2 separate regions of the Homo sapiens genome follow, and region 2 is linked to region 1. Evidence: fine-mapped expression QTL. A gene starts in region 1. The other region holds a variant in brackets. All regions are shown on one strand. Distances are between the middles of the regions. Region 1 holds the start of PIP5K1B (phosphatidylinositol-4-phosphate 5-kinase type 1 beta). Region 2 has its middle 33 kb from the start of PIP5K1B.

Region 1 (11,867 bases):
CATACCCTGATTAACACAGCTCCTTTTGCTTTTCTCCCATCCCAGCCAAATATTTTAGGTTGCTGTGACAGCTTGCTGACAACATCTTATAAGGGGTGTCAGAACAGGAAGCTCCATTTTGCTAGCAAAACATTCAAATTCAAATATTGTCAGGAGGAGACAGTCTTGCTAGTAAGGTTCCACCTAAATGGTTCCAAGTCAGGAGAGTCACTAAATGTTTTGAGAAATAAAAGTGAAAATCAATGTGTCTTCCCAGTGTATTCACATGGCACAGTGTCACAGAGGGCTTGAGCGTCTGAGCGTGGACTTCACTGGTTGACTAACGTTAACATGCATGTCTGTTCAACAAGTGTTTGTGGTGTCATCAGTGTCACACATGCTACCTTCCTTCACAAAACAAAGCTGAGAAAGTCTGAGTCTTTGCCCTGGAAGTTTCCCTCCACACAGGGTAGGATCTGCCTCGTCCACTGTAAGCAACTGAGCCCTCCCTGAAATGGCCCCAGGAAGGTGTCAGCTATGTCTTGGGCAGACAGCTACTGCCTCTACTTAGGAAGTTTGAGTGACTTTGTTGAATTCATTACCTTTCCTTCTTTTGCAGCCATCCCAGGAGCTGAAATACCATCATTTCTTGGTATTCTTCCTAGACCAGTCACCCTTTTATTTGGACTAATTTGATGTCAAATGTTTCATAATTGATGAGGATTTTTTAAAAATGTTTTGAGTAGGTAGAAAACAAACTACTTTGCATGTTATAACAAAGAAGGGTTGAGCATGAAAAATCTATGCTCAATCATGAAGACCCCTGGGCATATTCTGCTGATCACTTCCTGCTCTGGGGATAAAATGGCAGCCTAGGGTTTGACTCCTGGTTCCAGAGATAATTTCTGTGACCTTAGGAAAGTTGTTTCGATACTCATGGTATAATGATTGCAATAATTATTTTGGTGTGTGTTGAGGAACACTGCTGACTCACTTCTGCCTCTTTCCTCTACCTCAAGCTTTAAAACTGGCCTCTCCAACCAAAAAGCGGGGCAGGGTGGGGGTGGGTGGCGCGACGGTTCTCTCTCCCTTATCAAGGCCATGACTTTCAACTTCCTTAAAACCCAGGTTCAGACTTGATATAGAAAATGTGTGTATAAATTTTGCATGCTTTAAGAATCTTTCTGAAATGCAGCTTGATTCTCTATGCTATCCCGGCAATTCTCTATTTTTTGTCCTTTCTCTCCTCCATTCTGATATTCTCTTGCTTCTTGTTCACTCCTCGAATCAATCATTATTTGGTTCATGTTGTTTTTGTAACTTGTGGGCAAAGTGAAAACTCACCTTAAAAAAAGTATGTATGTGGGTCAGTTTGTAACGAGAAAAAATGTTAAAGAGAAAAGGAGTAACTGAATTCAAAAGAAAATAGATTATACAGGCTGGTGGAAATTAGACTGGTATTCTTAATGGTGTATATATATTTTTAATGTTAGAAACAATATAACATCAATTTTTTTAAACCTTAGAATTCTCCCACCCTGGTATACTATGCAGCCATAAAAAAGGATGAGTTCATGTCCTTTGTAGGACATGAAACCATCCTTTGTAGGAATGAAACCATCATTCTCAGCAAACTATCTCAAGGACAGAAAACCAAACACCACATGTTCTCACTCACAGGTAGGAACTGAACAATGAGAACACTTGGACACAGGAAGGGGAACATCACACATGGGGGCCTGTCGTGGGGTGGGGGGAGGGGGGAAGGATAGCATTAGGAGATATACCTAATGTAAATGACGAGTTAATGGGTGCAGCACACCAACATGGCACATATATACATATGTAACAAACCTGCATGTTGTGCACATATACCCTAGAACTTAAAGTATAAACAAAAAACAAAAACTTCACATGTGCTCTCTAGATCAAGCTTATCTGTTACCTTCATACAGCTATTGAGTCGGTTACTGAGGATGAAAAATAAATAATATTGACAAAAATATTACAAAAAAAAAGAATTCTCCCACCCTAACATGAGAACTTTAAACATTGTTCTTTTCCAGGTATTTATCGTTCATGTGCATTATTTTTTACATAATTATAATCTCCATATATATAATTTTATGTTTTTGCTATGAAATTTTAGGCGCACATTGCTTAGCTCTTCTTCCTGCTTCCTAGATGGGTCACCAGGTATTTTGGAGAACTTTTCCAGGGTCAGACCTGTATGCCTGCTAACACTGGGCCTCCAGTTTTCTTATTGTTCTTAGCTGAATGTAAACATCAATGAGTTTTGAGAAGAGCTAGATAATACCAACCTCTGGGCAAAGAACAGTAAGTTAAATAGGACATGTGTCTGGTAGATTTGCATATATTCTAGCTTTTAAAAACTCAAGAAAAAAGTACTGAGAGGTATTGTAAATCACTCATGAAGGCTTAAGATACAAGTGCACCTCTTCTAAAGGGTTCTGAGTCTTTAATATGCAAACTCCTCCAAGCCTTGGCACTAAATGTATTGCAGAAGGAACATTCCTTTGGCATGTTAGGCATGTAAGGGACTTTTCAGAGCATCTTGTCTAACTCTCTCATGGTGCAGACAAGGAATCTGCCACCAAGAAAGAATGCAGATTTCACTGTTGTGGGGACAGAGCTGGAGTGACAAACCAGGTCTTACGGCTCCTAATTCAATGCTCTTTCCAATCCTGAGAGGAAAGAGGAACAAGGGGATGGATAGGATTAAGAAAGAAAGAAAGAAAAAAGGCAGCAAAAAAGAAAGCAAAGCTGGATGAAAGAGAAGAGGGTACAGGGAATTAAGAAGAAAAGGAAGGCGATGCATATGAGGTTGTCAAGCCTTTGCTTGAATGTAAGGTTCCCAGGGTAAACTGGTCCTCTGAAATTAGTGTCTCAAGTTATACAGGGGCATCAGCTAAGCGTTTAGCCTTTCTTGTCTGCTTAGACATGAAGTTTCTAGAAAGAGAGGGCAATGTGGCAGGAGGATGGTCCCTAGAGATTTGGGAAGGATGCTGGCTCTACTTCTCTACTCTTCAATGTCAACGAATGCAATGCATGCCTTTCATCTGGATTCCTGTTTTTTTCTCATTGGAAAAAAAATAAAGGACAGATGAACAGGTGGAACTATCCATAGCTCACCAATGTTCCTCAAGTTCCCTCTGAATATTTATTGGACTTCAGTTGCTCTTGAGACATCACCAAAAAAAAAAAAAAATGCTAAATGTGCATTAGCAACTTAGAGAAATGCAACCTCCGGCATTTCATAGAAAGGTCCAGAAAGAATGTGTAACTGGTTCAAAGTGGCGTAGCTAAGAAGAATATATCGATGATCTGATGTGGTGTCACAAAGCACCCAAACACGTAGTGGATGAAGTAGTCTTCAAAAAATGGCTGCTATCAGCTCTTTTATTCCTGAACATAACACAGTACCCCTCAAGTCAGAAGGCAGAGTCTATTTCCCCTCCTCTTGAATCTGACTGGCCTTGTGACTTGCTTTGACCAATAGACTGAAGCAGAAATAACATTCTAGAACTTCCAAACTCAACCCTTAAGAGAATTGGCAGTTTCTATTCCTCCCTCTTGGAAGCAAGATGCCATAGAAGAAGTCTAACCACCTTGCTGGGAGGAAGCCCAAGCCAGCTGGATGGACAGAGAGAGGTCATGTGGAGGAGAACTGAGGTGCCTGATATGTGAATGAGGCCTTCTTGAACCTTCCAATTCAGTCCGGCTGCCAGTGGCCAGTTGAATGCCGTCAAATGAGTGACCTAGGCCAGGCACAGTGGCTCATACCTGTAATACCAGCACTTTAGGGGTTGAGGTTGGAAGGTTGCTTGAGCTAGGAGTTTGAGACCATCCTGGGCAACACAGTGAGACCTTATCTCCACACAAAAAAATAAAAACAATTAGCTAGGCGTTGGGGTGCATGCCTGTGGTCCCAGCTACTTGGGAGGCGGAGGTGGGAGGATTGCTTGAGTCCAGGAGATCAAGGCTGCAGTAAACTGTAATCATGCCATTGCACTCCAGCCTGTTCCAGCCTGTGTGACACAGCAAGACCCTGTCTCAAAAGCAAGCAAACAAACAACAACAACAACAAAAACAAACAAAAAAACCATGAGTGACCTTAGGCAATACTCAGCTAGGCTTAGTTGACCCACTGAATCATGAAAAATAGTAAATGACTGATGATTTTGGCAACTAAGTTTTGGGATTGTTTGTTAAGCAGCAATCAATATCTGAAACAGTGGCTTTAAACAGCAACCATTTATTGTTTCTCATGAATCTATGAGTTGGGAGGGTGGTTCTGGTGATCTGGACCAAGCCTAGCCAATCTCATTCAGACTTGCTTGTGCCTCCACAGTCAAGTGAGGGCTGACTGGTCAAGGATGCCTCAGCTGTTATGACTCAGCTCTGCTCTACAGGGTCTTTCATCTTCCAGCAGGCTTATTCTGGTGATGTCAGAATTCCAAGACTGGAAACAGAAATGTGTAAACATTTTTCCAGCGTTCATTTACATCAAGCCGGCTACTGTCTTGTTGGTCAAAGTAAATCATACGGTTGGGCCCAGAATAGGAGTGGACTACAAGGTTAGAGGGAAAGACCTTGGAGAAAAAAGGAGGTCATTTATTGGGGGGCCACTAATACTATCAAATGTACTACTAGGAACCCATGCATGTTTCTCATAGTTAGAGGAGTATTCAATAGCATTATTAAAGTTTTGGACTGAGGTCAGGAATCAATTGAAAAAATTACATTTAAAATTAAGCAAAATAATTAGATGAATATTTTCTGATTTTTAAATAGGTTTCCAGAATTTCTGGCCAAGTCACTATTGCTCATGATATTGATGTTGTTGTATTATTTCCAATACAGGATGACTTTCCTAAATCCCTGTTGATAGAGTTGGAGATAGAATCAGGAAGAAATACCAGGTCTCATACTACATGGTCATTCATTCCATTAATCAATTCACAGTAATAATGCAATCGTAAGGCTCTTGGTAGAGTTCCTTAGAATCCTGCTTCATAAAGTTAGCTCTCTAAATAGCCAGTGGGCAGTCTGGTTGGACACTTCTCTCTGAAAACCTAAGGCTGTTTGCTTTTGGGCTTTACAGAAGTGGCTCAATACCAGGCTCATTAATGGGAAAAGGGTCATGTGTATGGATACATGTATTTGGACATTTATACGTAATGCGTGATCACTTTTGATCCAATGTTTGGCTTTACCTGTCTTCATCTCCCCTGCATTACCAGAAACTGACTTTGCACTTTCACTTACCACCGCCTCCCTGGGAGGCAAATTCATTTTCCACTCTGGATTTCATAGCTGAAGTCTGAGAAGCAGGAAAAGGAGAGACTGGGATTACCATTCCCAGATTCCAAACTAGCCTGCTAGTTACAGCGGTATGATGCTGCCCCCTATACAGTGATTCGTACCAGTCAGATGAACGGTTCTTTGATCGGTTCTTCTGTCCTCCACCACTGGTCTATCCACCCCATCTTGAACTTTGTTAATACAATATTTCTGCTAGTTATTGTTCAGGGATTGAGAGTCAGGGAAACTGTGTTCTGGTCCTTGGGTTACTTAATGTCTTGAGACCTTAGTTTCCTCATCTGTAAAGCGGGAGGGCTGGACTAGATGTATGTTCCTCCTGCTCTGAGCTGTGAAGCGTCTAGGATGCCAGGAGAAAACCAGACCCAAGTCACAGGGTTCTAAACAAACCATACCTTAAATCTCTCAGTAATGGCCAGCCACATCTGCAAGAAGCAGGCTGGGAAAACAGCTGAAGAATAACAGATATTTGTTTTATTTGTCAATTATGGCTCAGTAAAGCTAAAAAAAAATAGATACTTCTGTTATCAAGAAATTATTGCACTTGATTCAAGGCTGATATTAAACCATAGCAGACTCACTCAAGGTGGGGGGTGAGAGAAACAAAGAGATTACAAAACTGAAAAGAGGTGTTCATTTGCAGAGAACTAAGGGAGTATCCTTCAAACAGAAACTGGAAGCCAGAGATCTCTGAAGATAAGGATCATGAAATGTTGTTATTCCCCAGACAGAATGTATCCCACGTTTTCCACCGGCGTTGTTTTTGGTAAAGAAGGGTAAGTGGAAGGAAGTGATGAGGCTGAAAAATACCATTTGCTTCAATTCAGCCGCGAAGGATCCGCTACCTTTTGGTTCCTATTAAGTGAATTTAGCTTTAGCTTTCATGATAGCATTTTCCCAAAGGAGTCCTTTAGATCTGACCCCTACCCTCTTCGCAGCTAGACTGACATCAGGTGACGTTGCAAGTGCCCCCAGCCCACTAAGCGCTATCAGTAGGAATTGGCCCTCAGCCCCGTCACAGCGCTTTCCCATGACATCCCCCAGCTTCTCTCTCCTAGGACCTCCTCGCCAGCCTACCCCTACCTGTTGGGTAGGTCTTACTTGCTGGGAACACCTGCTGTCCTTAGAATGGGAGCAACCAACGCCTTGGAATCCTGGCCTGTCCCTTCCTCGTGAAGGGGGCGCCTGCGCTCAAGTGCCGGCTTCGCCGCCTCAGGCAGAGTCTAGCAGGCGGGCGACCAGGCGTAGCTGAGTTCTGTGGCCTGGGGAAAGGGGACGCCCTATCCCCACAGCCCTGTTTCGCAGGGCTTCAAGACGCTGAGAACGGCCGGGAACCCCTGGAGTCTTGGAGGCACCCGCCAATTCCAGGGGCCCACCCCAACCCCGCTCTCAGTCTGGGCCAGCGGCGGCGGGACAGGCGCCCGGTCCCCACACACCGGCTGAGACGCCCAGCCCACTGCGGCTGAAGCTCCGGCCGCTGTTGCGGCAGGTGCTGCAAACCGGTCTGCCTTCGCTGCAGGGCTTGCGGGGATGGGGCAAGTGGGTGGAGAGAAAAGGGGAAGAGCCTGGGCGGCCGGCAGGCGGGGCCTGCAGCCTCCCCAGCCGCGGCAGCCGCCGCGCAGCCGGCTCTCTCTGCGCCTCGCTCCGACTCCGGCGCGCACCAAGCGGGAACCCGCGCCCGAGCCCGGCGGGCGCCGCTGCTGCTCCTCTCGGTCCCCGGTTCCCGGTCCCCGAACGCGCCGCGGCGAGGCTGCGCCCGGCAGTGGAGCCGCTCGGAGCTGCTGGGCTTTGGCGGCCGCTCGCTGCTCCGTCTGGCCGGAGGACCGGCGGGGAAGGAAGGGGAAAGCGGGGACACACACACTCGCCGCGGCGCGCGCGCACTGCACACTCGTAGCCGCGCGCCCCCGCCAAGGCGCGTCCGGAGCGAGTTTGGCCCCGCGGCTCCAGCCCCGGCACCTGCCCGCCCTCAGCGTTGCCCCCGGCCCCGGCCCCGCCCGCCGCCCCCTCCGCCCTCCCGCCCCTCCCGCCCCTCCCGCCCCTCGCCTGCACTGCTCTCCCTTCGCTGTGGGGAAGCGACAACGTCCCGATAACTTGCAGACTGTGGCGCAACTGGTCTTGGTAGCGGAGGCACCCGAATGCTGCCCGGGTGAGGTAAGTTTCCTGTGCGTCCCCGGCCCCTTCCCACTAGACCCTTCTGAGGGGCTTGCGCTTAGGGGCTCTGCATCTCTGCTGAAACCCGTCGGTCTCTCTACCCTTCCACTTTGCCTGTCTGCGTTGTGCTGGGGGTGACGTGGAGAGGGCGCCCGTGGCCACCGAAGCGGACCTTCGTTCCGCGGGGGCCACAGCTGCGCGCTCCCAACGGACACCCACCCGCTCGTCACCCGGATCCCCGGGGCCGCAGTGACACTCGGAGATCACTCTGGGTTCACTTAAATAGGAGTACTCTCCCCTTTTCCGGGGAACCTGCAGAGTTTGGCAGCGGAAGGAAAGGTCTCCCACCACCCTCCCCCGGTACGAAACAGCGGTGAACTTGTTAGGCGCCCTGGTATCTCAAGAGGGGCTTGCGAGTTGGTGTTCTGCTCATTTCTGGCGCTGGTGCCGGATTGAACAGGTGCGGTATGGTTCCAGTCTAAATGCAGCAACAGACTTCTGCGTTTCCCAGGCTTTCTCCCCCAGCCTGGTCAACGTGACGCTTCAACATCTGGGGCAGGGGCTGGGAGTGTAGGGGCACTGGGGAGGGAGAATGCCCGGGTTTGATTTACTATGCCGGTGCCAGGAGTCGCCAGAACAGAAGAAAACAAATGTCTGCTTATCTGGCATCTATGCAGATGAGCGTGTTGTCATTTCTTATCCCCCCCAACCCCCAGCTCTCTTGTCTGGTGCCCAGCGTGGCTGAGTAGAAACCTATTCCGGAGAAGTTATTTGGGTAGATTGATTAATTCTTTCATCGAATCTACTGAAATCAGGGCTCCGAACAAGGCAATCCTAGTTACTCTGATGCTTTTTTAAAGGGAGCGTGTTACAGATCAGAAATAACACCCACTATCATCACTACCTCTCTGTGACATTCTCAGATGCAGGAGGCCCTAGCTTTAAGGGGAATGATCCTTAAGGGACCGGTAGGACCTCAGAATGTGTTAATCTCGTGCAAGGAAGAAGCGGTCTCTGTGTCAGTACTTCTGAGTCTCGGTTTGGGGAACCCCTTTTGTCCCTCTAATGAAGCACATTCAGCCAGAGACTTCTCCCCTGTTCTGCGAAGAGACTGAAGCGTTCTGCAGCTGTTGGAGTGGAGAAAGGCGAAAGGATTGGTTTCATTAGGACTCTAATGTGATGAAGTAAGGATGGGTTTCATTAGGACTCTAATGTGATGAAGTAGGGTAGTGTTCATGGAAGCTTTGCTAGAGCATTCCCAGCTGAAAGGAGACGCTGGGAAAAAACCTTAATCGGCCAAGTGTAAACCAGTGGGAGGTTGAGTGAGTTTCATGTGTGATCTCTGAGCGGAGGGAAACGGTGGTTCTGATATGGTCCTGTGGGCAGAGACTTATGAGGACTGATGAGAAAGCTGGTGAGTTTGAGACTGATGTATGATGACATCTTACCTGAGAAGGAAAACTGTGAAGCACTAAATGATAGAACCACATTACATTTTTGTCCACGTTAAGACTAGAGAGATTTAATAATAACACCTTACATTTGCATCAGTGTCTTGCAATTTGTAAATTCTTTTGAGTGTTCTCACCTAATTCCAAACATTTCTGAGGGAGGCAGGGCAAAGACTTTTTACCATGTAAACACAGAAGGAACATGAGGCTCACAGATTCAGAGATTTATCAAGGTAACAAGTGCTGGTATTAGAATCACAGTTAGGTTTTCTGTCATAACCAGGTGCCTGCTCTGTACTTATATAAGGTGGTTTTTTAAATGGCAGAGTTCTTCTGCATTTATTGTGGTCTGCATAGTCTCACTGTAAATTACTGTTTACATTTTACAGATGAGGAAACTGAGGTTTAGACAAGCAGTGGGAGTTTTCCATGGATTTACATCTCATTTAGTGGCATTTGCAAGACTAGAACTTGGATCTTCTGATGTCCAGTCCATTGCTTTGTGTATTCTGCCATCATTTCAGTTCTGATAGCAATGAGGACACATCATGGAAACTGCAATACACAAAGGACTGTTAAGCATGCCCCCAGTGACCTGGGTTCTAGTTCTGGGACTACATTTGGCCGTATGACCTGGGCCATCATATCACTTCCAAGTCTCAAGTGTCTCACATATAAAACAAAACGTTTGTATGAAATTATGTTTTTTCTTTCCAACTTTAGCATTTTGTGATGTTTACCAATGTGTTTGTAATCCAATGTTATCATTTTCTCTAGAGGAAGGAGACCTTTGTACCCCACATCACCTAAGAGACCTAGCTAATTACTCTTTCACCTTTAGTTTATCCCTTCCCCCCTTTACTACATGCCACTTCATCAAAGGAATGAAACTTAACAAGTGCGTTTTAGCTTAACATCTACAGTATATTGTTTAGTTTACTGTTTGACTTGAAAATATTCTGAGGGGTTAAAGTACTGTAAGGTACATGTCAGGGCTTACTTGAATATTCTAATTGTAAGCTCATAACTTTTTTTTTTTAGCTTTATGGTTTGCATAAAGTAAGTGCTCAGTAAATAGCTGTTGAATTAATGAAGGGGGTGAATGAAGTCATTCATAAGGAAAACATATGCTGTAAAACATAGAAAGCATCTTACCATGTAAATTCCCAACACATAAGATAATTTGCCTACAGGCATGTGCCTCCTGAAGCTGGCGGGTACAGAGCCCATTGTTGCTCTCTTTTCTGAAGGCATCATATAGGGAAGAGCTTTTCTTTCTCCCTAGACAGTAGACTCATGTCATCTATGTTATGCTCTTTTGTTTGCCGCCCCCCCGCCCCTTTAGTTGTTAGTATTACAGCTGCTGAAAGATACATTCCTAGAAATTGACTTGTCCCATTTTATGAAAGGGTATGTCTTGACATGGGGAAACCAACCATTCTGTTTTTAAAACAGGGTATTGAATAAATTTCAGGAGATGCTAATACTGTCTCGTGGTTTCAGAGGGGGAACCTAGTTAACAAAACCAACCTAGTTTCTGTTCCTTTTAACAATCTTCTCTTTCTACTCCTCCTCTTTATATACAGACAAGTAGTGTTTTTATGTTTGGAAGAATGATAAGAAAGAATATAGTGATCTTAAATATTATTAATGGATCTGCAATTTACATTGGGGATTGATGTATGTTTCCTTCTGATAAAGAATTTAAATATTAATTAGTTTAGAAGTACCGTTTATGGGTAAGAAAACTAAAACTTAGGTGAATTGACTTACTTATGGTCACAAAGATGATAGCAGGAGGACCAAGATCAATGTGGAATTCTTAAGAAGGTTCATATTTGAGTTTGTCCCAGGAGTTCTATGGTGAAGGTACAGTTTTGACTTTTAGAAATCATAGAGATTAACAGAAAACTTCTGTTTACTATCATTATTAGAGAGTTAGTACATTTGAAAATGGTTTAGCATTTATATGTTTAAGTTTTCTTGCCCAAGCAGATGCCATTAAAAATAACATGTTTTTTTCTCTTTACTTTTTTTTTGTTTTTTGAGTCAAGGTCTCATTCTGTTTCCCAGGCTGGAGTGCAGTGGCCCAACTCCAGCCTCAACCTCCCCAGGCTCAGGTAATCCTCCCACCTCAACTTCCTGAGTAGCTGCAACAACAGGCACGCACTACCATGCCTGGCTAATTTTTGTATTTTTGGCAGAGACAGGGTTGCACCATGTTGCCTAGGCTGGTCTGTAACTCGTGGATTCAAGCAATCCACAGGCATCGGCTTCCCACAGTGCTGGGATTACAGGTGTGAGACCCTGTGCTCGGCCAAAATGTTTGTTTTTATCTATTCACTATGATTCTTCTGGCTTATGTGCATCACCAGACTCAGAAATAATACTTTGCTCCAATCAGTGCTGGGAGAGAGGAAACTGTTCAAATAGAAACCAAAGACCTGTAATCCCATGGGAGGCCGAGGTGGGCGAATCACTTGAGCCCAGGAGTTTGAGACCAGCCTGGGCAACATAGCAAGACCCCATCTATGCAAAAATAAAAAATTAGCTGGGTATGGTGGCACGTGCCTGTGGTCCCAGCTACTTGGGAGGCTGAAGTGAGAGGATCACTGGAGCCTAGGAGTTCAAGGTTGCAGTGAGCTATGATCGCACCACTGTACTCTAGCCTGGGTGACACAGCAAGGCCTTGTCTCAGAAAAGAAAGGAAAAGAAACACAAATGTATGCTGGTATTCTCAACTTCTCTTCCTGATATATAAAGCCAGAAGCCAAAGGTAGCCTTGTCATGCAGCTGGTAAAGTCATAAATATGTATACATTCAATTTGCATTTGCATTTTGCTTGTACTTCTGTTAGATGGTGAGTCAGAACATTTAATATCCTGGAAATTTTTTTTTCCCCCTATGGCCAGAGCCTTCAGTAGATTCTGTAAAACATCAAGT
Region 2 (11,867 bases), 32 kb before region 1:
TTATTATTCCCTAAACAATACAGTGTAAAACTATTTGCATAGCATTTACTTTGTATTCAGTATTATAGTAATCTAGAGATGATCTAATGTATACGGGAGGATGCACGTACGTTAGAGGCAAACACTATGCCATTTTATATAAGGGACTTGAGCATCCATGGATTTTGGTATCCACAGGGATCCTGGAACCAATCCCCCGTGGATACCAAGGGATGACTATATTTCTAAAAAGTGTTATACTCACAGGTCACAATTTTTGGAGAGACATAATTTAATCCTAAATAGAAGCCAAGATTCCAGATCCTAATTGTTTCTACTCTGCTTCCACATCCCGCAGTGTGACAATCAGGAAAGCCACCATCAAAAAGTCCTGATGCTCATGGTTGGGTGTTGTTGTTTTTGTAAATTGCATTTTATCATTAAGGTCCCCATGTTGGTGGTGGTTTATTGCTTAATGAAATTGCCTCCTCTGTGGGCTTTAATTATAAGGCAGGGAAATGAACAACAGAGAATACAATCTGAGGTGGCAGCCAGGCCATTTTCATTTAAACTTTTTGCAGGTTCCCACTGTGTGCTTTATTCTCATAAACTACAGAATTAAACACATGAGTCCACTGGGCTGGGCCTTACCACTCACTGCTGTCAGAATGAACATCTAGAGTAAATAATGATAGCTCCATCAGACCCACAGATGGGGCTATGTTAAGCTATGTGGCTGGTGCAGTCTCAGCAAGGATGCCTGCCACAGGCTGCCTGGAAGAGGACTCTCTTAAATATCTGCTTGAAGAATTCGGCCTGAGAGTACAAGCAAGTTGTCCACTGCGAAAACTGAACAACAGGCTACTATAGCTGGAAGGATGTTAGTAAGCCTATTCCAAAGGCTCTTAACCTGGATGTGTGGATTAGCTTTTAGGAAGCCACAGCAAACAGTGTTCATGTCCCCCCACCCCCACTCCTCCATCTCCTCGGCCCACCCAGAGGTTACCTTCAGCTTCAGTGAGTAATTCCATAAACCAGCCAGCCTTCCTGGTTGCTGAGGGCTTTGTGTGGCTGCAGGAGCACACCTGCCCAAGGTCAGAGCAGGCTGGGATGGCCTGAGAGTTAACACTATGACCTCCAGCCAATAAAAGATGTGAGTTGGTGAATAAGCACCTAGCTTCTTCACCCCTCGGTGGGACGATTCTGAGGTATGTTCTGCACGTTGTTTTGGAGGGTCCCCAGAGCCAGCGGGCCTCTGTTGTCCACAGTGGTACCCGCTGATGAGCATACCTTTCACCGGCTTTCCTCCCTTTCCTGTCTCAGGCCTCATCATGTTCCCTGGGATTGCCTCCCAGATGAATGACTTGTTCCCAAATCCTTTACCTCAGGGTCTTCTTTTTGAGGGAACCCAAATCAAATCAGGGTATACAAGCCCCTGAAGCTACATGGGAAAGTATTCATGTCTGTGCCATTTTCTGAAAGAGGGCACACAGCTTTCATTAGATCCTCAAAAGCTCTTAGCCAAAACCAAAAAAAAGGGGGTAAGAACCACTGCTCATTATTCCACAGTGAGAGCAGCTATTTCTTCCAGGTCTAATCTAATCACTCTCAACCTGGGGGGCCAAAGGAATGGAGTCAACTTTCAACTAGCTGACAAGTCTGCATGACAAGAGGTGGGGGGAAGAGGTATGCAGAGAGAACAGCCCTGTGTGTGGGAGTACAGAACAGCAAGGGCCTTTCCCAAGGCCAGCATGGTCTCAGGCTAATCTGATGTTTGTGCGTGCATTGTATTTTATATCAAAGGGGAAGGGCCAGTTCCCAAAAGACAAATATGTGATTCCACTTATATGAAGTGCCTAGAGTAGACAAATTCATAGTGACAGAAAGTAGAATGGTGTTTGTCAGGGACTTGGAGGAGAAAGGATGGGAAGTTGTTGTATACCAGGTGCGGGTTTTAGTTTTCCAAGATGAAAAGAGTTCTGGACCGGACGCGGTGGCTCACATTTGTAATCCCAGCACTTTGGGAGGCCAAGGCGGGAAGATCACTTGAACCTAGGAGTTTGAGACCAGCCTGGGCAATATAGAGAGACCCCATCTCTACAGATAGTAGTAATGATTTTAAAAATTAACCAGGGATGGTGGCAGGTGACTGTGGTCCCAGCTGCTTGGGAGGCTGAGTTGGGAGAATCTCTTGAGCCCAGGAGGCTGAGCCTGCAGTGAGCCATGATCACACCACTGCACTCCAGCCTGGGAGACAGAGGAAGACCCTGTCTCAAAAAAAAAAAAAAAAAAAGCAAATAAAAAGAAAAGAGTTTTGGAGATGGATGGTGGAGATGGATGGTGGTGACAGTTGTACAGGAAAGTGAATGTACTTAAAACCAACGAACTACATACTTCAAAATGGTTAAGATGGTAAATTTAAGTTATGTGTATTTTACCACAGTTGTTAAAAAAAAAATGTTTAAAAACCACTGATCTCAATAAACACAACAACAACAACAAAAGCTGTTGTAGCAGGAACTGTGACCCTCCTCATTGGTGCTATCTTTTTGCAGGGTCTGGTGCTCACTGTGTGTAATCGTGACTGCGGGGACCCGCCTATCGGAGTAAATATGTAAAAGGAGGTGAAGAGGTGGGCCTGATCCCTGGCCCGAGGAGTGAATTCAGGCAAAGCCCTTGATGTCTTTGTGCCTAAGTGTCTCTCCAGTTGAGGAAAACAGTCGCTGTTGTTAAGCCTCCTGGGTAGATGCCAAAAGAATGGCCACTCATGAGGAAGAGGGCTGCATTAGGCTGAGAAAGCCGCAGGAAGTGACTGAGAGGGAAGAGAGAAAGGTCAGTGTGTTTGTTGTGTGAAGAGTTGGAGGTCAGTTCTAAGAGACAGAAAAGCAATAAAATCTGGAGATGGAAAATAGCTAGGAAGGAAGTAAGAAATGAAAAGACCCGTGGCGCATACCACTGGCAAAGATGCTTCCTGGCAACAGGTTTCTCAGACTTTGTCCATGAACTCCTGCGGGCCTTCGGACAGACTCTTGGGGATCCTCAATTCTCAACAAAAATTTTCTAATGTTATTTTTTTCTGATTAGGATAATCAAAAAGTGATTTAAGTATGTTCTGCATATGACATTTATGTATGTATAATTGTTAAGCAATTTCCACAAATTAGAGATTTTGACTTTTACTGACTTTTAGTGTCTGAGCACTATTATTATGGATAGCTATGTTCCAATGTCAAATTGTCAGGAAGAAGGCTGTGCCCACCTCTCTCCTCATATCAAAATCCTGTCTGGTGATGATTTGCCATCACAAAACCTATTTCTATAGTAATATTTTAGTCTCTCATGTTATTCAATAACTTGAGACTTTTAGATTTGCCATCATTTACACTAACATACTGTGGTCAAGCAGTAACATACGGCTGCGACTGTTCTAGTGGATGTGAAGTGTAAATGAGGTGCTACAGCCAATGAATGGCCAAAGGACATGGGACTCCTCTGGATGAGCAAAGCTTTCACAGGAGTTTAAATATCCTAGGTAAAGTCAAAGTGACTGCGATAGAAAGAAAACTTGACTGAAGATCAAATTATTCATAAAATTCTATTTCTGATATGTACAGGATTCTGTCAATATTCTTATCAACTCTTTAATAAAACTAGAAATTTGTTTTTGACATCTGCAAGGAAAAAAAGAACCCAGATATGCTGATGCCACCAATAACTAAATTAGACAAACACATTTAGTACACATTTGGTAATTCAGTAAAGCTAAGAAATTTTAAGAGAATGTAACTTTTCAGAGTCTATAAAGCAGTGTAACATTAGAATTGCTTTTTTGTTTTGTTTTCTTTTTTCTTTTTTTCTTTGTTTATTTTAAAATTGCTTTTTAACTTAGGTTAACTATAAGGTATAATAACCCTGAATTAGCAAACAAAAGCTTATTGTTATTAATACTGTTTTGTACAAAATATTTTGCAAATAGGCATTATTCACACTGATATTGTTGAAATAAAAAAACAAGAGCAGGGTAAATGTAGATATGGACTTGTTTTCTTTTTAGTACTAAAGCCTACATCGACAATTTAGTTTTAGCCAAGCAATAATTTCTGTAAAAATAATTTAATATTGTAAATATGAAATTGATTGCTTTTCTTGTTTTGGTTTGCATTTATACTCCTTGCCCTTTTTTCTAGTATGTAAGAGCTACGAGCACAATGAGAATACACCTAGGCTTACTTGTACTTAAATAACATTACAATATAAGTGCTTAAGAGAACCCTAGGAGGCCTATGAGAATTTGTTTTCTCAGAAGTGCTTTGCACATCACTCAAGCTAGACAAATACTGTTTTAGAAACACAGAGGAAGGCAACATCAATGTAGCCTGGGTTGTCAGTGTCAAAAGACCATTCTTCATGGGATTCTTGTTTCCATATATCTTGTGAGCGGAGGCATGGACTATCTTTGTTCTTGGCTAACTTTTCAAGGATTTTTGTATAGTAAACACATTGAGAGAGAGAGGTAATGTCTTTCTAGGAAGCATCAAGCATTGGAGTTTAGAGATAGTAAAAGGGAAGCGTGTTTACCATCCATTATAAAACATGAGGCTGTCCTAAGTTCTCTCTATTCCTCTCCTTATAGTGCAGCTTACTGTGTGTGCTGGTGTCACTTGACCCTCTCCACATTACCCCAGGGGCATCAGGACTTGAAGAACTGGCCCAAAAATGCTGCTACTCTGGCTACTACCATTGCTGTGAGTTAAAAACTGTCCTTTGTCTCTGACCCAGGAGTTCTATGCCTTCTACCAGCATCCATGAAACTTGGCTGGCTAAATTGTTAGCTTTCCAGTAGCTATTATGAAATCTCAGGCCCTTTGTGATTATTTTTTTGTTTGTTGGTTTGGGTTTTGTACATATTTATGGGGTACATGTGACATTGTGTCACATGCGTAGAATGTGTACTTCTACTTCAGGATGTTTAGGAGATCCATCACCATAAACTTTACCATTTCTATGTGTTGAGAACATTTCAAGTTCTCACTTCTAGCTACAATACATTGTTGTTAACTGTAGTCACCTTACTCTACAATTGAATATTACTGCTTATTCCTTCTGTATAACTGTATGTTTGTACCCATTAATCAATCTGTCTTCATCTACACATCTAAATCCTTCCCAGTCTCTTGTCACCACCATTTGATTTTCCACCTCCATGAGATCCATATTTTAAGCTCCCACATATAAGTGAGTACATGCAATATTTATTTCTGTGTCTGGCTTATTTAACTTGATATAATGACCTACAGTTCCATCTATGTTGCTGTAAATGACATGATTTCATTCTTTTTTTGGACAAATAGTATTCCATTGCATAAATAAACCACATTTTCTTTATTCATTCATCCACTGATGGATACAAGTTGATTCCATATCTTTGCTATTGTGAATAAACATGGGAGTGCATGTATCCCTTTGGTACACTGATTTCTTTTCCTTTGCATAAATACTCAGTAGTGGGATTGCTGAATCATACGGTAGTTCTATTTTCAGGGTTTTTTTTTTTTTTTTTTTTTGAGAAATCTCTATATGGTTCTCTGTAATGGTTGTACTAATTTACATTCCTATCAACAATGTATGAGAGTTCTTTTTTCCACACACCCTCACCAGCATCTGTTATTTTGGCCCATGGAGGAAGTGGGGTTTGAGGTGTGACCTGGGTATAATTTGGCTAGATGGATGTGCAGTAGTGCGGGAAGAGCAATCCAGCTAGGTGAATGTCACCAAGACTCAGAGACAGGAATGCACTGTGGTCTGTGGTAGAGTGATGAGTAGGTCAGACAGACTAGAATAGAGAGTTTGGGCTGAGAAGTCCCAGTTAGAAATTAGGCCCTAAATTAGAAAATTAATTTGGGGCTAAATTGTCCTGTGCTTAAATATTAGGGTAAATGAAATCCTATATATAATAAAAAACTTTTGAAGGTTTCTAGCTCTCCTTCCCTGAAGTCATTGATTTATTTGCTTATTTATTTATTTACTTAAGTTCCTAAGCAGGGAGATGATATATTGAATATTGAAGTCTGATGTCATAGAAGAGTGAAGTATGGAGTGATAAGAGAACATCAACAAGTTTCTTATCTTGACTCTGCCACTTACTAGCTGTGTGACCTTGGACAAGTTATTTTCTCTGAGGCCAGTGTCCTTATCTGTCATAGGAGGAATAATAGAGTCCTCAGCTTAGTGAGGTGTTGCAAAGGTTATAGATAATATCTCTAAAATGCTTGGTGTATTGCCTAGTACACAGGAAGCCAATAAATGGAGAAGATTTTTCAGCTAGCTATGTGCAGCACAGATTGATGGAGAAGAAGTGAGGGCATGAGTCTCCCCTCTTGTAAAGTAATCACAACTACATGGGGATAAGGTCATGAGGAGTTGGGCTAAGATAGTCAAGGTAGTAAGAAAAACAACCCTAAATATATAAAAAAAAAACTACTAGAACTTGGAAACTAATTGAGCATTATGATAGCTAATGTTTACTGCGTGCCTAGTATGTGCCACAAGCTATTTTAAACACTTCAAAATATTAGCTCAGTTCTAAAAATGCTCTGAGGAGGTACTATTATTGTTGCCATCTCAGAGTCTATCATCTCAAACAGACACTCAACGAGATAGAATAACTTGCCTGAAGTCATATAACTAAGGCCAACAGGAACTCAAACCCAGGCAGCACAGTACCAAAGCCCATGTGCTAATCTACCAGACTATATTGTCTTGCCCCTCAGGAGGAGGTTAGGGAGCAATCGGTGAGGATTCACAGGTCTGGAGACCAAGGAGGGCAGGAGGAGCAGAAGTGTGCTAAGAGAAAATGATGCTGTGTGTCCTGACATGTTGAGTCTGAGCTTCGGGAACATCGAAGTGGATGTGGCCTATAGGGAGTTTGAAGTTGGGGCCTGGAGCTTGCCCGTGTGAGAGGATCTGTTTGAAGACAAAGATGTGAGAGTCACCTACTGCATAGGAGATAGTTGAGTAGTTTATCAGCATCACCCTTTTGAGTGGTCAAAGGTGTGGTGACTCTGGTCAGAGACTGCCTGGCATAGCTGACTAGGAATTGGAGAAGCGATCAGTCTGGCACTTTCCAGACTGGGGTTTCAGCAAGTGTTGTTATTGTTGTTATACCAGGGCATTCTGTCTTTGCAGAAAGACACTCAGGCA[C/A]CTGCTGCCACCAACAATTATTTCCCAAGATCTGGAAGGCAAAGACATGGGCTTTTCCTTTTAACCTTATCACTGCCCTGTCTGCCATGCTTGACTCTTCTTCATTTCTCTGTGACAGACATCATGATATAATAGAAAAAGTTCCAGAGTTGGAGTTATGCCTGAGTTGAAATCACAGCTCTGTAACTCACCAGCTCAGTCATTTTGTGTAAGTTAATTAAGTCATTTAATCTTAAATGTATTTTTTAAGCTGTCAAATGGGAATAATACTTTTTTCAGAAGGTTGTAGTGAAATAACTACTAAAACCTTTAGTAAATGTTGGTTACTTGCCCCCAACAATTCCATCTTCTTTCCCCTGGGGTGGTTTAAGCATGGCCACAAATTATTTGATCTTTCCTCATTAAGAGTTGGGGGTTATGTTCCCTCCCCTTGAATCTAAGCAGGCTCATGACTACTTCAACCAGCAGAGTAGGGTGGAAGTGTCTTTTTGTGACTTCTGGAGTTAGATCATAAAAAGGTGATGTAGCTTTTGCCTGTTTGTTGAACTGCTTGTTCCTGGAGCCCTGAACCTTCATGTAAGAAGTCTGACCATCCTGAAGCCAGACGCCACAGCTGAGCCCAGCCTTACGACCGTACCCACCAAGGCACCGGGCATATAGTACAGCTGAACTGGACCTTTAAAACCAGCCTGTCTGCCAGCTGAATACCACCAAGTCATCTCCATTGACACTACATGGGACTGAAGGATCACCCAATCAAACCCTGTCCACCAAATGTCTAACCCCAAAAATCATGAGATACAATAAAATGGTTGTTACATTTCCGAGTAGTTGATAACTCAGCAATAGTGAACTAGAACAATCACTTTTATTCCAATCCCTTTAATTCTTCCTCCTCCACCTGCCTGCTTACTGGAAATAGCCAGTCCTGAGTGTATTCTGATTTGAATCCTGTTCTAATATTTCATTGTGCAAAATGTGATTTGAGGGTAATTTCATTTTATCTCCTTGAGCCTCCTTCCTTCCTTCTTTTTTTTCTCCCTTTCCTCCATAAGAATTTTCAGAGTGTTTTCATTGTATCAGATGCTAGATTGGGCATGGTCACTTTCCTCTATGTCAGGGATTAGCAAAATTGTTTAAAAGACCAGAAAGTACATAATTTAGGTGTGCAGACAAGTACCCAAATGTGCCGCTGAAGCATGAAAGCAGCTATAGATGTAAACAAATAGGTGTGGCTATATACTAATAGATGTTCATTCATCCAAATGAGTTTTGTATTCATTTACAAAAATCGGGAGTAGGTTAGATTGGGCACCCAGGCCATAGCTTGCTGACTCCTGCTCTAAGTGCCCAACACCTGGTTGGGAACATATGTATGTGTTCAGATGTCTTCCCAGGCCATATCTGGTACGTGGCAATGCTATTCAGTAGCTAGAGAAAGAGCCTCCAGCCACCCCAATTCAAAAAGGACCTGGAATTTAAGTCAAGTCTTGGCTGACAGAGGAATGGATGTTCATACTTGGAGATGGAGGTGCAGAGGCATGTAGTCCCAGAGCGCAAACAGGGATGTCAAAGCAGCGCAGGGAGCTGGAGATGAGGATGGGCTGAGCAGAAAAGTGAGAGATCAGGCAGAAATGCTAGAGAGCCTTATTTTCTAAAATTGACAGAATGCTTCTTCTGCTCACTCATTTTTCTCTCCAAGGAGTTGAAGGACAAATCTGATAAGGTAAAAATGGCTGTGAGCTCTGCAGATGCCTGCCAGGTATTACTGAAGCTATCATCTTTCCTTTTCAGAAAAATAGCTCCTTAAAGTAGATGTCTTCGGAACACAATGTAAAACCTCTTCCCCTCCCTCTAGCATAGCAGGAATTCACAGGAGGGAACCAGAATAGCATGTCATGTTCTAACAGCTCTTCCAGCAGTGAGACTAAATACACATAAACTCTTCTAAATTTGTATCTGCTGCAAACATGAACAATGACATCTTGTCATTCTGCTACGAGGTTCATCTGGACAAATTATATGCAGCGAAGGACACACTCCATCACTTTCCTGACTTTTTCAACTTCAACATCAGACCTTCATGTCCCGAAAATATCTCTGGCTTCCCTTTTATTCTTCTTTAATTGATAGCACTGTCATGAAGTCAGTGAATCCAGATTGAGAGAGAAATAGAAAATTTAGAGGAGATAAAATGCAAGTTTTTCTGATTATCTCGGCTTTGACTCTTCAAATCAGCACAGTTTATCTCAGTTAAAGGGGTTTATTTGAAGGCTATCCATGGCAAAAAAGAAGGAAAAACATCTTTTCAGAAGCTGCAAAGCCAGAGAATCTCACGAAGAACTAATGAAGTGGAGGGTAGAGCAGTGGCTTTAAACCTGCAGCCAAAGTTCTGGAATCTCAAAAGCAAGTGAGCTATGGTCCTGACTCGGTTCCTCCATCCACCTGCTTCCTCTCCTGACCCTTCTCCCTGCTTCTTTTGATGGGTCAGTTTGTCTTATTGTTTTCTTACTGTCTTCTTCCTTCATGTCTTTTGGTTTCTACTCCCACTGCCAACTCTTCACTCTCTCTTTCTAGCTCTCTCATTCAAACTTCATATGAGAAAGGATATGAGCACAATAGTCAATCCTATCAGAGTAGAACATACTGGTGGGAGGAATGGTGCAGGACTGGCTAACCTATAGGCCATAGCGTAGGAGCAGCACTCATCCTCGGTTCCATCAGCTGAGGCTGGGGGTGCAGGTCAGGAGACACAAAGCCTGATGGCTTACACGGCTTTCCTCATGGACTCTTCTTCACACCACAGCCCAATATACCCATGCCCCACTGTCAAGCCATGGGCACCAACAGCCAATGCTCTGGGACCTACCTCTCTTGCCCCCCTTCTGATCCTGAGCCCACCAGTTACCTGACTGAATCCTCTCTTTATTTATTTTTTATTTATTTTTTGAGACAAAGTTTCACTCCCGTAGCCCAGGCTGGAGTGTAGCGGCATGATCTTGGCTCACTACAACCTCTGCCTCCTGAGTTCAAGCGATTCTCTTGCCTCAGCCTCCCAAGTAGCTGAGACTACAGGTGCACACCACCACGCCCAGCTGATTTTTGTATTTTTAGTAGAGATGGAGTTTCAACATGTTGGCCAGGCTGGCCTCGAACTCCTGACCTCAAGTGATCCACCCACCTCAGCCTCCCAAAGTTCTGGGATTACAGGTGTGAGCCACCACACCCATACAGAATTCCTTCTTTATCATGATTCTATTTCTGAACACTTGTATATTTGAAGAGACAAAGCTGAGACAGCCAGAAAAACCTGCATTGTATCTCAGCTAAATTTTCTATTTCTTTCTCAGTCTGGATCGCTGTCTTCATGACAGTGCTATCAATTAAAGGAGAATAAGAGGGAATCTTTATCATGATTCTATTCCTAACTACTTGTATATCTGTCTCTCCAGCTTCTGACTCTTCAATACCCTCCAAAGGCTTTGACTCAGGTGTACTCTGCCAACTCTCTCCGTTGCACATTGCCTCTGAAGTAAACCCTGACCCAGTGAATCCAATGGGAGAGAAGAGCACAGGCTGAGCTGTTGTCAAAGAAAGGCCCCCAAAGTACAGAGACTTAAGTAAACATGAGCTTGTATCTCTCTCAAGTAATAGTGCAGAGGGAAGTATATCGTGAACATGGCTTCTGTCTCTGGGTCCAACGTGGCTGCTCCCAGCTAATGCCTTTTGTCAGCCAAAAGAAAGAGGGGAAATAAAAAAGGGGAGCACACACTCTTGCAAAAGGGAAAACCCAGCAATTGCTCGTGTTACTTCTGCTCTCATCTGACAAAAATGTCCTGGTGGCCGGGTGCAGTGGCTCATGCCTGTAATTCCAGCATTTTGGGAGGTTGAGACAGGAGGATGCCTTGAAGCCAGGAGTTCAAGACAAGCCTGGGCAACAAAGTGAGACCCCCATCTCTACAAAAAAAAAAAAAAAAAAAAAATTGCCAGGTCTGGTGGTGCACACCTGTAACCCTAGCTTCTCAAAAGGCTGAAGTAGGAGGATCACTTGTGCCCAGGAGGTTGAGGCTGCAGTGAGCTGAGATTGTGCCACTGCACTCTAGCCTGGGAAACAGAGCAAAACCCTGTCTCAAATTTGTCCTGGTCACATGCCCCACCTAGCCTCTAAAAAGGCTGAGAAATGTAGACAGACATGGGCAGACATGCCTTTCTAAAACTTGGAGTGGGGTGGGTGGTTAGATCATTCAATTAACGAAAGAGAATAGATCCTATGGAACGATTAGGGGGCTCTGCCACAGGACAACTTATGGCTGAAGTCCATGGGCTGATCCAGATTTGATGGGACTAAAGTTTCTGCAACTCCTGGGGTCCTCTTTAAGATACAGAATGCAAACTGAAAACCACAAAATTACAAATACAAGGCCTTTGAAGGGGCTCATGCTAGCGAGGGGCCAGGAAACTTAAGCTTTATTAGCTTCGTGATAATAGCACCTCTGCTTGGATTTGCTAATCAATGTCCGAATCACGTTCTTCTCACTCCCACAAAAGGTAGTTTAGACCATTTTATAGGGTGGATTTTGTAAACTTTCAAGGTCAGTGCCAAATGTGGCAGCAACATTTTGCTAAATGATAGTAAAACAAAACAAAACAAGTCTTAAATTTCCTCTTCCTGATGTTTTCACTGTAGT

Evidence for each region. PIP is the estimated chance that this variant, and not a neighbour inherited with it, causes the effect. A credible set is the group of variants that fine-mapping cannot tell apart.
Region 2: its variant is the best candidate, but not a certain one, in a credible set for the expression of PIP5K1B in whole blood (INTERVAL, PIP 0.81).

What each region holds. Positions count from the first base shown.
Region 1 is chr9:68,698,290-68,710,156 of GRCh38, forward strand. PIP5K1B (phosphatidylinositol-4-phosphate 5-kinase type 1 beta) reads left to right here and starts at 6,951. Exons shown (of 16, transcript NM_003558.4): 1 at 6,951-7,473. RefSeq lists enhancers at 6,465-7,390, 8,079-8,168, 8,619-8,768 and a silencer at 6,809-7,328.
Region 2 is chr9:68,666,676-68,678,542 of GRCh38, forward strand. No RefSeq gene overlaps it. Among named protein-coding and RNA genes, the nearest start is that of PIP5K1B, 33 kb to the right of the region's middle. RefSeq lists an enhancer at 2,406-2,958. The variant C/A (reference allele first, on the strand shown) is at 7,180.